Homo sapiens: one gene and its partner. Changing the gene in region 2 together with the main gene of any one other region gives a genetic interaction. Each region holds a gene or a part of one and is shown on either strand. Other genes may lie near its edges.

Evidence for each region. Genes that interact genetically often act in the same process or in processes that back each other up.
Region 1: changes in MVD (region 2) and KRAS are lethal when combined (synthetic lethality), as found in Homo sapiens cells (2 studies listed by BioGRID, with this or other methods).

Annotation. Positions count from the first base shown.
Region 1 is NC_000012.12:25,226,930-25,230,429, forward strand, and holds part of KRAS (GTPase KRas), read right to left. Parts: intron 484-3,500; coding exon 305-483; intron 1-304. UniProt on the Homo sapiens protein: Ras proteins bind GDP/GTP and possess intrinsic GTPase activity. Plays an important role in the regulation of cell proliferation.
Region 2 is NC_000016.10:88,653,092-88,656,591, reverse strand, and holds part of MVD (diphosphomevalonate decarboxylase), read left to right. Parts: intron 1-287; coding exon 288-487; intron 488-861; coding exon 862-936; intron 937-1,174; coding exon 1,175-1,393; intron 1,394-1,784; coding exon 1,785-1,900; intron 1,901-3,183; coding exon 3,184-3,292; intron 3,293-3,500. UniProt on the Homo sapiens protein: Catalyzes the ATP dependent decarboxylation of (R)-5-diphosphomevalonate to form isopentenyl diphosphate (IPP).

The DNA.
Region 1 (3,500 bases), on a different chromosome or scaffold from region 2:
ATGATGTATCTAAAAAGTTTAAAGTCTTGCTTTTGTAGAATAGTCAAGAGTACAGAAGGCTGTGGAGTCAAACAGGCCTAGGTTTCAATCCCAGCACCACCACTACCGATGCAGTCTGGAGCAAGTTACTCCACTGCTCTAATCCCCCAAGAACTTCATTTATAAAACAGGGATATTACCTACCTCATAAACATTATTTAAAAATTTTTATTAAATATTATATGCATGGCATTAGCAAAGACTCAAAAAATAAAAACTATAATTACTCCTTAATGTCAGCTTATTATATTCAATTTAAACCCACCTATAATGGTGAATATCTTCAAATGATTTAGTATTATTTATGGCAAATACACAAAGAAAGCCCTCCCCAGTCCTCATGTACTGGTCCCTCATTGCACTGTACTCCTCTTGACCTGCTGTGTCGAGAATATCCAAGAGACAGGTTTCTCCATCAATTACTACTTGCTTCCTGTAGGAATCCTGAGAAGGGAGAAACACAGTCTGGATTATTACAGTGCACCTTTTACTTCAAAAAAGGTGTTATATACAACTCAACAACAAAAAATTCAATTTAAAAATGGGCAAAGGACTTGAAAAGACATTGTTCCTGCTCCAAAGATGACGGACAAATGGCCACTAAGCACCTGAAAAGATGCTCAACATCATCAATAGTCAGGAAAATAAAATCAAAACCATGAGATGCTACCACATACCCATTAGGATTGGCTATTATTAAAAAAACAAAACAAAAAAACTCAAAAAATGGAAAATAAGTGTTAGCAAGGATACAGACACTGAAATCTTTGTGCATTGCTGGTGGGAATGTAAAATGGTGATGCCATTGTGGAAAACAGTGGTAGTTCCTCAAAAAGTTAAACACAGAATTACCATATGATCAGCAATTCCATTCCTAGGTATATAACCAAAATAACTAAAAACAGGGACTCAAACAGATACATGTACACCAATGTTCGCAGCAGCACTATTTATAATACCCAAAATGTGGAAATAACTTAAGTGTCTGTTAACAGATGAATGGATAAACAAAATGTAGTATATACATACAGTGGAACATTATTCAGCCATAAAAAGGAATAAAATTTCATATAGGTTGAGCATTAATGCAGGTTAATCCAAAAATCTGAAATCCAAAATGCTCCAAAACCTGTAACTTTTAGAGCCTGACATGATGCTAAAAGGAAATGCTCACTGGAGCATTTGATTTTGGATTTTTTTTTCTTTCATCTTTTTTTTTTTTTTTTTTTTTTTGGAGAGATAGGGTCTTGTGTTGCTCAGGCTGGTTGAACTCCTGGGCTCAAGCGATCCTCCTGCCTTGGCCACCCAACGTGTTGGGATTACAAGCATGAGCCACTGAGCTCCATCTGATTTTGGATTTTTGGACGAGGGATGCTGAACCAGTTAAGTATCTATGAATATTCCAAAATCCAAAAAAAAAATCTGAAATCCAAACCACTTCTGGTCACAACCATTTTGGATAACGGATGCTTCAACCTGTATATACATGCTACAACACAGATGAACCTTGAAAACATTATGCTAAATGAAGTAAGCCAACACAAAAGGACAAATACCACATAATTCCACTTATATGAGGAACCTAAAATAGGCAAATTCAAAAAGACGAAAAGTAGACTACAGATTACCAGGGGCTGGGGGAGGGAGGATTACTGGGGACTATTTGACAGGTACAGAATTCTAATTTGGGATGATAAAAAAAAGTTCTCAAAACAGATAGTGCTAATGGTTAGACAACATGGTGATGGTTGCACAACATTATGAACACACTTAAGGTCACTGAATTGAACACTTAAAATTAACTACCATGGTCTAGGCGCGGTGGCTCACACTTGCAATCCCAACACTTTGGGAGGCCGAGGTGGGCGGATCATGAGGTCAGGAGATCAAGAACATCCTGGCCAACATGGTGAAACCCCATCTCTATTAAAATACAAAATATTAGCCGGGCGTGGTGGCGGGCGCCTGTAGTCCCAGCTACTCAGGAGGCTGAGGCAGGGGAATTGCTTGAACCCGGGAGGCGGAGGTTGCAGTGAGCCAAGATCGCTCCACTGCACTCCAGCCTGGCAACAGAGCAAGGCTCCGTCTCAAAAAAACAAAAACAAAACAAATGAAAGAAAACTACCATGGTAAACTTTATGTTATGCATATTTTACCACAAAAAAAAATTTTTTAAAGGTATTATATGGAGAGTCAACAATGCAAGTGTACATGCTGGTAACAAAAAGTTATTGACAAAACAAAATAATTTCAAAAATGGGATAGCTCTACCAACTCTATTATTCAAGATGATTTAAATGACAAGAAAAATCAATCAACTTATAAATAATTGTCATGCATCTATTTTATCTATAGTCAAAGGCACACATAAGGAAATGGGCAATACTCAAGATTCTAATGGCCTCATCCACTTCTGAAAACTGTGGAAAAATAATCTAACAGCCAGATGGATATCTCTAAAGAGCAATATTGTTTCATCTGCAAATCCTGAGGGGCCTCTTTTTTCTTTTCTAAAAAGAGAGAGAACTGCAACTATAAGATTAAGTAAAAGAAGGGAGTGGGTAACTTTAACAGAATCTTGAAATAAAAATCTGATTTTCTTCTGACTTTTGGGTAATACTTCTGCTCAAGATTTCACACATTCTGCCAAAACAGTCCTCAAAAAATATGGTAAAGGGATGTTACAATGTGAAGCCATGAAATCATGAAATAAGAAGCAGGGCTAACAACAGGTATAAAGCATAAACATAAAAGCAATTATTTTCTTAATGTTCCACATGTAGGCTATAGTATTAATGTATCTTTTTTTTTTTTTTTTGAGATGGAGTCTCGCTCTGTCGCCCAGGCTGGAGTGCTGTGGTGCAATCTCGGCTCACTACAACCTCTGCCTCCTGGGCTCGAGTGATTCTCCTGCCTCAGCCTCTTGAGTAGCTGGGATTCTAGGTGCACGCCACCACGCCCGGCTAATTTTTGTACTGTTTTTTTAGTAGAGATGGGGTTTCACCATGTTAGTCAGGCTGGTCTCTAACTCCTGACCTCGTGATCTGCACGCCTCAGCCTCTCAAAGTGCTGGGATTACAGGCATGAGCCACTGCGCCCAGCCTCTAAAGTATGTTTAGTTTATGAATTACTCTGTAGACCATTCTATCAGAGGGAGAAAGAGAGAAAGAATGGTCATTACAAATGTTGTTAGTAAAGTATTTCAAAATGTTTACAGTATAAGGAGAATATAAAGATGTCTAAGTGCAGCATGATCACAATAATATGTGTTTATGTATTTATACAAATCTACTATGTGTTTAAAAACTGGTAATATATACATCAAAATGTTATAAAGGTTATGTCTTTAATGGAGATAATTTAAAAGACATTTATCTTGGCCGGGTGCGATGGCTCATGTCTGTAATCCCAGCACTTTGGGAGGCCAAGGTGGGCAGATCACCTGAGGTCGGGAGTTTGAG
Region 2 (3,500 bases):
CCTTCCATGGGGCTTCCTGCTCTGCCGCAGGTACCTTTTGTTGCCCTTGTCGCGGGCCGCAAGCTCTGCAGGCCGTGAACAGAGAGTGTCCGAGAGTGGAACTAGCGGAGGTGGGGGACAGACGGCTGGGCCGGTGAATGCTGGCCTCAAAGGCTGATGGCCCAGAAGCCCTGTCATCTGGAAATCCCCATTTGCCGTGGGGTGTGGGACGTTCCTGGGGCGGTGAGCTGTCAGGGAGCACAGCGCAGGCAGCTCTGAGGACCCTCCCTGAATCCGCATGCCTGCAGCCTACACCCTGGCCCGTGTCTACGGCGTGGAGAGTGACCTCTCAGAAGTGGCTCGCCGGGGCTCAGGCAGCGCCTGCCGGAGCCTGTATGGGGGCTTTGTGGAGTGGCAGATGGGAGAGCAGGCCGACGGGAAGGACAGCATCGCTCGGCAAGTGGCCCCCGAGTCACACTGGCCTGAACTCCGCGTGCTCATCCTTGTGGTGAGTGGGGTGGGGCGGGTGGAGCAGCAGCCCGGTGGCCTCTGTCCCTAGTCAGGGCTGCTGCCGGGAGCAGGAGCGAAGGCGTCCATCCAGGCTTTGCTTGGCTCCTGGGGTCAGCGGGGGCTGAAGGAACAGAAGCGTGGTTGAGTGCTCAGGAACCGCTCCCATGCGGCGGGCGCCACCACCCGCTGGGATCTGGAAGTTGCCCCTGCGTCACCCCTGCTGTGGCCGGGAGGCCTCTGTGGTCAGGCAGGTGGCACTGACTCCCACCCCCGCTGCCTGCATTGGCTGAGGGAGGGCCGAGTGTTTGAGGCTGAGGTCCTTGGGGCTGGCCCCCTGCAGGGTGTGGCCCAGGCTGTCTCTCCCTCGTGCAGGTGAGCGCTGAGAAGAAGCTGACAGGCAGTACCGTGGGCATGCGGGCCAGTGTGGAGACCAGCCCCCTGCTTCGGGTAAGGCCAGGAGCGGGTGGTCCCGGGGCCCTGGGAGTCACGCTTGTGCCCGGCTCTGCCCTCAGCCTCTGTCTGGGCCCGAGTGTTCTCACACCTGCGGCAGCCCCGCCAAGACCACGTGCAGGAGCCAAATGCAGAGATGGGGCTCGAGCCGGGCCTCCAACCCCGGAGTCTCTCCTCGAACCCTCTGCTGTCGAGACCCCCAGCGGCTCCATGGGAAACACCCTGTGCCTTGCAGTTCCGGGCCGAGTCCGTGGTGCCCGCGCGCATGGCGGAGATGGCCCGCTGCATCCGGGAGCGAGACTTCCCCAGCTTCGCCCAGCTGACCATGAAGGACAGCAACCAGTTCCACGCCACCTGCCTCGACACCTTCCCGCCCATCTCTTACCTCAATGCCATCTCCTGGCGCATCATCCACCTGGTGCACCGCTTCAACGCCCACCACGGGGACACCAAGGTGACGCGGGCCGGGAGGGCAGAGGCTGCGCTCGCGCTGTAGCGCGTGTCTAGGCTTGTGCTGCCGTGGAGACGGCCCCGGGGCTCGCGTGCAGGGCAATCTGTGTCTGAAAGCTCCACCCTGCTGTGTGCGAAGCTCACTGACCATCTGGGTTCTTCTGTTTCATTTTGTTTCTTGACTTGCCCGGGTCACGGCCCCACCACCTTCTTCCTGGGTTCACAGGCAGACGTGTCAAGTACCAGGCACTTGGGGTCACAGCTCCACTCCAGTGTGGCCCTGAGGGCCTAGACTGAGCTCTTGGAGAGCCCAAGGCCGCCTGGCAGACCAGAGGGTTGGGGAGACAAGGGTCAGGCACCACGTGAATAGCCAGGGTGACTGCTGTGGGTTCCAGGTGGCGTACACCTTTGACGCGGGCCCCAATGCCGTGATCTTCACCCTGGACGACACTGTGGCTGAGTTTGTGGCTGCTGTGTGGCACGGCTTTCCCCCAGGCTCGAATGGAGACACGTGAGTGTGGACCCCGCCCCTCCTCCTTTTTGGGAGATGGTGCCAGGAACTCTGGTCGGAAGAGACGGAGGCACCTGAAGGCTGTGGCGCTGAGACAGGGAGTCCCAGGGCAGGCAGCAGTCCCCCGAGTGTGGGAGCCACGGGCAGGGTGTCCCCATAGAGCCATCCCACAGCCCACGTCCACAGGGAAGAAAGAGAGGCCGCTCACGCGTGTGTGAGCAACGCCCAGGGTCTCCCACCTCCTGAGTGACAGCGTCCCCTGCAGCTCGGGACCCCGCAGGCTCTTATTCTATAGAACAGTGGCTTAGGAAACACGCCTGCACTCCCAGATGTGTGCGTAAGTGTCCGACATTTTGAAGGAAAGGAGTCAAAGCCCCTGATTTCCTTCTTACTGAAGCGAGTTAGAGCCAGTCAAGGCGGCCGGGTGTTGACCCCGCCCCGGCAGTTGGGTGTCTTTTCTTGGGTGGGGTCCGGCAGCTGCATCTTGGCGCCACAGAGCCCCCATGTACGCCCTCCTCGGTGCACAGCTTGGCCCTGAACCGCCTCTTCCCCTGCGCTGCTCTGTGGGGGTGCCACAGAGCCCCCATGTACGCCCTCCTCGGTGCACAGCTTGGCCCAGCCTCCTTACGCCCCGGGGCTGTTGATTTCTTCCCTCCCGTGTTTTCATGGTGTCTTATTCTCAATGTGAGAGGCGCCTCCCATTTAAGGGTGTCTGGAAGCGTGTGGGGATGTGCGTCTGTCCCGGGTGGGAGCAATAACACCTTCTAATGGTCAGGGGCCTGCCCTGTGGGGTGGACTCAGACCCACACCCCAGGACTGCCCGCCTGGGAAGCACCAGGCTCGTGGCTGCTGCTCCGGGTGGGGCTTGCAGGCTTCCGCTGTTCTGCAGAACACGGTGACGAACGCACCAGCTTGAATTGGGCGCTTCCCTGAGCTGTTACCCCATGGGGCTTGGCAGCACCCTTGGCCAGATGTGGGTCCAGCCTGGGCATAGCTGTTTACCACATAACCTAAAATTTCCTGTCTCAGCCATTCGAGAGCATATAATCCTGCGGTGTTGAGGACATTCACAGGGTCATGTGAGCACCACCTCAAGCCACCTCCTTAACTTTTTCATCACCCCTAAAAGAAACCTGTCCCCACAGCAGCCACCTGCCGTCTCCCCCTCCCTGAGCCCTGACGGCCAGGAATGCACTTCCCATCTCTGGACTTGCCTGTTGTAGACTGTTGTAGACGCTTAGAGAAACGGATGCATTCACCGTGCCCCTGCCCTGCTTTTCCAGGTTTCTGAAGGGGCTGCAGGTGAGGCCGGCCCCTCTCTCAGCTGAGCTTCAGGCTGCGCTGGCCATGGAGCCGACCCCCGGTGGGGTCAAATACATCATTGTCACTCAGGTGAGGCCTGGGGCTCACCCAGTACCCCGGGGTTTCCTTTCCTGCCAGGGGGGCCCGCCCAGCCCCCAGGGCCCTTAAAGGCTAAGCGCGGCTCCCTGTCCCTACCGTGTCTCAGGCAGGAAGCCAGAACGCCTTTGTCCATTCATTTGCTCTCAAAGTGGACATTACAGGCCACTGGTGATGCTCAGAGCAGCAGGGCTGCGCTGAG